Regions from separate parts of the Homo sapiens genome. Here region 2 is linked to region 1. A link means that fine-mapping ties the variant in region 1 to the expression of a gene that starts in the linked region. Tissue or cell type: spleen. Region 1 holds a variant in brackets; the other region holds the start of a gene. All regions are shown on one strand. Distances are between the middles of the regions.

What was found. PIP is the estimated chance that this variant, and not a neighbour inherited with it, causes the effect.
Region 2: AKR1E2 starts here. The variant in region 1 is fine-mapped to the expression of AKR1E2 in spleen (GTEx, PIP above 0.99).

The regions. Positions count from the first base shown.
Region 1 is chr10:4,889,838-4,894,005 of GRCh38, forward strand. It overlaps the pseudogene AKR1C6P. Among named protein-coding and RNA genes, the nearest start is that of AKR1E2, 66 kb to the left of the region's middle. The variant G/T (reference allele first, on the strand shown) is at 2,508.
Region 2 is chr10:4,824,562-4,828,729 of GRCh38, forward strand. It overlaps AKR1E2 (aldo-keto reductase family 1 member E2), which reads left to right and starts at 1,646. Exons shown (of 10, transcript NM_001040177.3): 1 at 1,646-1,802. The coding sequence starts at 1,764. RefSeq lists a silencer at 2,073-2,152.

The DNA.
Region 1 (4,168 bases):
TTTGTGGTATAGAATATATCTTTTCTCTTCACAGTGCCGTTGGCAATCTTCTTTCGGATGGCCTGCCCGATGCCTTCTTCATTCAGGTGTGTATAAGCTGAGTCAATATGGCGGTAGCCTACATCAATTGCTACCTGGACGGCTTCTTCTACATTACTCATAGCAACCTGGAAGAGCATAAAGAGATAAAGATTTGTTTGACTCAGGAACAGATGATCAATTCTCTTAGCAGAGATATTCAAAAGAACCTTTTTTTTCCCTACTAAGGGCTAAGAGCTACAGGTGGCAAAGCTAAATGTTGAGTAAAAATCAATGGTAAATGTTTAACAGCTAGCTCTGAGGAAGTCCTGGTTTGTAGTATTTGCCAGTTTCAATAGTGTAAATACTCCCACCATGGATAAGTTCAAGCTTGCCAAATTGGGCAAAGATGCTCACAATACACTCTTTTGAGTCCTCATGAGCACGTCACAGTCTTTAAACCTCTATTTATGTATTTATAGAATGTATATGATCTATAGATTTGCACAATCTATAGATTTACATTCCTAACTTAATTTGCTCTATAAGAGATTATGAAATTGGTTTTGATCCAATAATTTAATGCTAATAATTATCTATCTGCATAAAGATATAACTTTAGACACAATAAATTATTAATTTACCTATCTAAACTTGGAAAAACAAAGAACATTTGAGGAAGAACAAAAATAGGAATCATTTTAAAAAATCATTTTAAAAGAAAATTTTTAAAGAAATAGCTTTTAAAATAAAATAAGCTATTTTCTTTTAAAATATTTTAAAATAAATTATTTTATTTTTAAAATAAAAAATTATTTTAAAAGAAAAACTTTTTTCACTTAAAAAAACTCATAATTAATTCTTCTTTTGGTTGCTTTGCTGGTTCTTAGGCATCACTTTCTCCTTCACATCTTTCTTATATTTTTTTATTCTCCTGGCCCACCAGCCTGGACTCTTTAAGTCATCCATAATTTTTCTGTTTATATTAGCACCCCCTACACCTCACTCAGTAATTATAATGCCTTTTGGGTATATTTGTTTCATTTCTATCTACCGTTGAGTCAACTGAGTCCGTAAAGATAAACTATCCCCAGGTTAAAGAGCCAAGGCATGGCAAAAGCAATACTTCATGAGAGTCTTCTTTGCAGTCCTCAATGGTACACACCATGTTTCTTTTGTGTTGGGAAACAATCCTACAACTTTTATAACATTCTTCACCAGGAACCACTGAGATGTGCCCTTGTAGGTCTGGAGTGTTTGATCCAGAAACATGCATGGAGCCAAAGAGAAGAGAATTTTCCAAGTACTACATAACTCTTTGATGGCACCGTCTTACCAACCTGGCTTCTCAGAGACCGTGGCCACCTTAGACCACACAGCTACCTCTAAGCCTGCCTCTCTTTCCCCAAGTTCCTTTGCCACACAACTTTCTCTAGATACTCTTATTGGTGGTGAACAGGGAGGACTTGGGTACTAAAAATTACAGCACAACTTTAAAGTTTGCTGTGAAGTTTCTGGCACATGGTAATCATGTCAATAGTGTTTTATTTCCTCTAATATACTGTGAAAATGGCTACAACTGTACAACAAGAGAGAGTAACAGCCACAGACTTACCCACCCCTGAATTCTGAGCAATTGCTTGCACACTTCCATCTCTCTTGACGGACTGCCACTCCAAGCGTGGTTTTGGACAAGCAGCATCAAAATTGCTTGGGAGCTTATTATAAATGTGAATTTTACAGCCTCATCCAAGATCTACTCAATCAGAACCTTCAGGGATAGAGCCTCCAAATCTGCATTTTTAACAAGATCCTGAAGTGTTTATATCACTACTAAAACGTGAAAAGCCTTTACTTAATCCACAAAGTGGTGAGTAAGGGCTAACTTCTCACCAAGGGCTAACTTGGTGAGAAGTGTCTTAAAATGAGAAAAGTGAGGCCCACCTGAATTTCCCAAACTCACATAGTGACTAATTCTGATCAGGAACCACCTGCTACTCCTCCATCCCCAATGCCATTATGGTTACCTTCCTAGCAACAGAGGTGCCAAACCCCAGAATAGGCATGAACTTTCCATCATTCAGTTTTACAGAAAGGAGTCTGTTAAAACTCATCTTCTTTTACTTTTCCTGCAAAGCAGAGGGTTTTTTTCCCTTTATTAAGGGAAATCTGTAGAGAAAAGAAAATACAATGACTATTTTTATAACAACCTTTTTTTCTTTTGAGATGAAGTCTCACCCTGTCGCGTGACCTCTATATTGATCTTGTATCTTGTATCTATATTGATCTTGTATCCCACAACTTGTCTGAACTTGTTTATCAGCTCTAATAGTATTCTAGTAGATTCCTTAAGATTTTCTTTTTTCTTTTTTATGAGAATAGAAATGGGGCCTCACTATGTTGACAAGGCTGGTCTCAAACACTTGGTCTCAAGCAGTCCTCCTACCTCAGCCTCCCTAAATATTGAGATCACAGGTGTGAGCCAATGC[G/T]ACTAGCCCATAAGATTTTCTACAGGCATGATTATGTAATCTGCAGGTAGAAATAGTTTTATTTCTTTTTTATAATGGCTTGGCTGGTGTCCCTCTAAAATTCATGTTTACCCAGAACTTCAGAATATGACCTTTTATGGAAATAAAGTTTTTACAGATATAATTAGTTAATATGAGATCATAATGAATTAAGGTGGGTTCTAAAGTCAATGACTAAAGTCTTTAGAATAAGAAGAGAGAATACAAATACACACAGAAAAGAAAGCCATGTAACCATGAAGGCAGAGATTGAAGTGATTCAACTATAAGCCAAGGCATGCCAACTGCTACTGGGAGCCACCAAAAGCTAGTCAAAGGCAAGGGAACCATCTTCCCGAGAGCTTTCATGGGGAGCATGGCCCTATAAACAACTGGATTTTTGACTCAAGTCTCCAGAACTGGAAGAGAATACAATCCTCTTTTGTTGTTCTAAACCATCCAATTTGTGAGTAATAGGTTATGGCAGCTCTAAATCTAAAATATTTTCCAATCTGGATGCTTTTCTTCCCTTGCCTAATTTTCCTAGCTAGAACCTCCAGTACAATGCTTAATAGCAGTGGCAAGAATAGACATTCTTATGTTGTTCCTTATCTTAGCAGGAAAGCGTTCAGTCTTTTACCAATAAGTATGAAGTTTGGGTTTTTTTTTAATAGTTGCTCTTTATAAAATAAAATCTCTTTTATTCCTAGTTTTTTGAGTGTTTTTTTAAAATCATGAAAGGATGTTGGAGTTTTTAAAATGCTTTTTCTGAATTTGTTGAGATGATCATGTAGTTTTGTTCTTCATTCTATTAATACAATGTATTATATTGATTGATTTTTGTATGTTCAAACAATATTGCATTCCTGGAATAAGCTTCACTTGGTCATGGTATATAATGCTTTTATGTGCTACTGGGTTCAATTTGCTGGCATTTTATTTATATTTTTATAGCTGTATTCATAAGGGATTTTGTTCTGTAATTTTTTTTCTTGTGATGTCTGTCTGGCTTTGGTATCTGGTAATACTGGTCTCTAAAAGTGAGTCCTTAAAAGTGTTCTTTCCTCCTCTATTTTTGGAAGAGTTTGAGAAAGTTAGTGTTAATTTTTAAATGTTTGGTAGAACTCATCCATGATGCCAACTGTATCTGGGCTTTTCTTTGTGAATTTATAAAAATATATATTAGTATTTACATCACTTTACTTGTTATAGAACTGTTTATATTATCCATTTTTTCAGTGTTAGTATTTTATATTGTTCTAGGAATTTGTCATTTCATCTGAGTTATCTTTAAAGAGATTGCAATGTCTCCTCTTTCATTTTTTATTTTAATAATTTGCATCTTGTCTATTTTTTGCTTGATAAGTCTAACTAAAGGCTTATTGTACCAGACAAATCACTAAGTGACCTTGAATTGACATTAATACAAATAGTAAGTTTTATCTCAACACCAGTAGCTTAATAACAGCAGATACAAAGCAGGCAGGAAAGGAAATAAAGGATAAATAGTTACAGAAGACTCTCATTAACTCTGTAGTTACGGGTTAACCATTTAAGCTCTGAATTTTTATTTTCAATTTGCCCATCAGTTTTAAAATATGCACAGGAATAGACCATAATATGTAATCAGCTGGATTCCTAGC
Region 2 (4,168 bases), 65 kb before region 1:
AATCCAACAATAAGAAAATGAATGACCCAAATAAAAAATGGGCAAAAGACCTGAAAACACACCTTATCAAAGATATACAGATAGCAAAGAAGCAGAGTAAAAGATGCTCAACGTCATAGACTTATGGAATTTCTGTTAAAACAATGAAATAGCATGATACACGATTGCAGTGCAGTAGAGCTTCCCCCAGGAATACTGTTCCCAGACTTGTGCAGGGCTGGTTCCCTCACTCTTTGCCTTTCTGTTTGCAGCATAAATGCCACTTCATTGAGGTGTTGAGGATTCCCTCACTCTGTCCCTTCCGCCTCTCACCACAAGCACCTGCTTTATTTTACTATAGCACCTGCTCTTTTTTTTTCTCATGCATTTGCTTTTATGCTCTGTCCATTCATTCCTACAGATGGTGAGCTCCTGAGGGCAAGGCCCATGCAGGTCATTTTCAGCACTGCACCCTGGCCTAACTTGCCCCGTGCACAGGTGAGTGCTCCAGGCACAGTTTCTGAATGAATAAATGAGAGTATCGAAGATCCCCCTTCCCACCTGTGAGGAGCTCACATTGAGGAGATGGATGCTCACAGGAGATGCAAGTTGGGTGGGAGGCAGGGGGACACCCAGAGTGACCCTGGGAGTTTCTCTGGCTGCAGCCGCCCCATTGAGCAGAATGGGCAGCGCCTCCCCTGATGGCCAGCACTGAAGACCCAGGCAAGGAACCTAGAAACAAAGCCCTCATCTGGGTGTGGGTGTCCTCAAGGCAGTAGGACTCCCAGGGCTGAGGGGGGCAATGAAGGGGGAGCTGTAAGCTCCAGGAGAGATAAGAGGGGCGTCGGAAGGCTCCCTTGACCCCTCTTTCCCTCCACTGGCCCTGGGGGAGCCCAGTCCACTCATAAGGGGGGTGTCCAGTCCACCCCATCCACTTCCAAACGGGGGCCCGAGGCTGCAAGCAAGGACGCTCCCCTCTACATGCAGGGCTCGGCCTCCCCTGCACCACCCAGGACCCCCGCTGTCCTGCAAGCCCCAGCCGCTCTGGGCCAGGACCCAGGGAGTGGAAGGCATTTTCCAAGGGCACAGTGGCTCCCTGACGGGGAACCAAGGCCAGGCACGCTTCTCCCAGACTGGGGGCCTCGGGGCACCTGAGAATGGCCATCCTTGGTACAAGAGAGCGGGGACCCACTCCCGCGCACCCTGTGCCCCAGGGGACGCAGGACTCTGCACCCTGACCCTAGAGCTTGCCCTAGGATGGCCCGGCCATGGCGAGGCCCTGGAACGGTGAAGACTCTCTGCCCATCAACCTAGCACCTCTGCCCTACCCTCAGTCGCATATGCACCCGGTGCGAGGGAGAAGGCAACCAGGAGGTCACACCTAAGGTGGGGGCGTGAGCGGCAATGCCAGCCGATTGTAAAACCTTCCCTGCTCCTGCGTGGCTCTGCAAGCCAATCGAAAATTCCGTCGTCTATGCCGCCAGCCAATCAGGATGTCCAGAGCGCGGTGCTTCCAGCCATTTGGGACTCCAGCTGGCTCTGCGCCTCCAGCCAATCGGGGTGCCCGTCCTTAATACAACCAGCCAGTCAGTGCCCGGCGCGCGACACCAGCAGCCAGTCAGGAAGCCCTGCGTTCATGCTTCCAGCCATTGTCGGAGTGTCAGCCGTCACAAGGCACTTCCAGCCAGTCGCAACGGCGGGTCGCCAGCGCCGCAGTAGCTCGCGCGGTGCCTGTCGGTAGTCGCGTGCGGGGCGGCGGGGCGGCGGGGCGGCCGGCGGCGGCCATGGGAGATATCCCAGCCGTGGGCCTCAGCTCCTGGAAGGTGACGCGGTCGCGGGCAGGGAGGCGCGCCTGACCTAGGGGAGCGCGGGACTTGGGGGCGCCCGATGGGACCCAGGCCGGGGCTGGGGAGAAGTGCGGCGGCCTCCCCTCCGCCTGGCCGACGCCCGGGAAAGGCGCTGCTGAGGTGGCCGCCCACCGCCCACAAGCAGCCCGGCCCGGCCTTTCCTAAAACGGAGTCGGTGCTGCCCGCCGAGGCGCTCTCTGGGAGAAGCGGGAACCTCGGCAGCCAAGCCTCAGACTCTGGGGCTGCGGCCGCGGCGTTGGGCGGGGCTGCTCTGTGGAGAGGCGGAGCCCTTGAAGTTACTCAGAACTGGAGCGGGGATGCCGAGGGGAGGCCTTGGCGGCGCTGGACTCGGCCGGAACAGGGAACCTCGAAGCCTCCTCTCCAGCAAAGAGAGAAAGAAAAGTTGGGGCCGGGCGTGGGGTGCGGGCTTGTAATCCCAGCACTTTGGGAGGCCGAGGCAGTAGGATCGCCTGAGCTCAGGAGTTCAAGACCAGCCAGGTCAACATGGCGAAACCCTGTTTCTACAAAAAATGAACAAATCAGCTGGGCTTGGGGGTGCGCGCCTGTGGTCCCAGCTACTCAGGAGGCTGAGGTGGGAGGATCACTGGAGACCAGGAAGTCGATGCTGCAGTGAGCTTTGATGGCGCCACTGCACTCCAGCCTTGGGGACAGAGCCAGACCTTGCTGGAAAAAAAAAAAAAAAAAAGAAAAAAGGAAAATTGGAATTGCTGATTAGGCTTTAAAAGAAACTTTGGGATCTCATGTTGTTCCCTGTTTAGAAGCAACCTGCCCTGATGCCTGAGACATATAATCGCTCTGTGCATTTATGGGGTGCAGCGTAATGTTTTGAGCCGTGTATACAATTGCAATGTGGTTAAATCAAGCTAATTAACATATCTATCACCTCTCTCAGTTATTATTGTTTGTGGTAAGATGTTTGAAATGTCTTGTTATTTTGAAATACACATGTGTAGTAAATTATTGTTGACTGTTGGCATCCTAGTGCGCAGTAAGTCTTAAAAGCTGTGTCTCCTGTGTGTTTGAAACTTTGTACCCTTTGATCAGCAACTCCCCATTCCCTCCTTCCTCACCTCCCCCAGCCCCCAGCGTCTTATAACCACCATTCTATTCTACGACCTTTCTCTGCTTTGAACTTCACAATTCCTGCCAGTGATTTGAGACAGCACTGACTAAAAAGCGTTTAAAATTTGATCTTTAAAAAAAAAAAGCTAAACTTAGTTGTTGATAAAAGCTATAAGAAGTCATATAGGAAGTTAGTTACTGAAGGAGTCAGAATGTTCAAGGCCTGCTCATGAAAATATTATTTAAATTATTTCTCTTACCTGCTTACCAACTCTTAGAGGCTAGGAGTGTCGTTTTGTTCATATTGGTTCTCAGCATCTAGTGAAGGACGTGCATCTGTCAGCCCTTCATTCAGTAAGCACTCGATGGATTAAACTGTTGAGTCTCTTGCTTCCCTTTATTTCTGCAACAATTTGGTGCAGGAGTCCAGACTTTCGTGCACACAGGATAAGGAAAAATTAGTGAAAACTGTGCTTAACAGGTCAAAATATTCTATTTATTTTTCTTGGACTGCAGGTGCATCAAATTGGATTAATCATAATCACTCATCACTGGTCTATGCAAAGGCTTATTTTTACTCGTCTATTTTTAATAGTGAATAAACATCACAGACCTATCCGTTATCTGTTGCCCCAGAAATGCTGCATCAATGGCCAAACACCAGACCTCAGTGGTGTACAGCAGCAAGTGTATTCCTCCCACACGGGAGGTCAGGAGAGCAGCTCTGTGGACCTTGGCTGGGCTCAGTTGGGATGGTTGGGGCTACTCCACTTGGCTCCGCACATCTCCTGTCCTCGTGCGGTTAGTTAGGGAGTGTTCTCAAGATGATGGCTGAAGCACAAGAGAGCAAGGGGAGCGGTGAGATGTCTGGAGACCTCAGCCTGGGCTCTTCATTATTAGGGGCCACTTGATCCATCTGTGTGCCTGATCGGTGCTGTCTTAATTACTACAGTTCCTTGATAAGCGCCCATACCTAGTAGGGCAGGTCACCTCTCCCTGCTGTTGTAGATTTACAGTGTACAATTTGATGAGTTTTGACAGATGCATGTACCTGGGTCCTGGCTTTTTATTTTGGCACCTTACTCTCCACTGTAAGTTTTAGAACTAGCTTAGAAGGTTCCATGAGAAACTTTATTGGGGTTTTGATTGGAACTACATTAAATCTGTAGACCAGCTTGGAGATAATTGACACCTTTGTAATGTTAAATCTTAACTTTTCTACAAGCATGGTATTCTTCTCTGTTAATAAATTGTCCTGA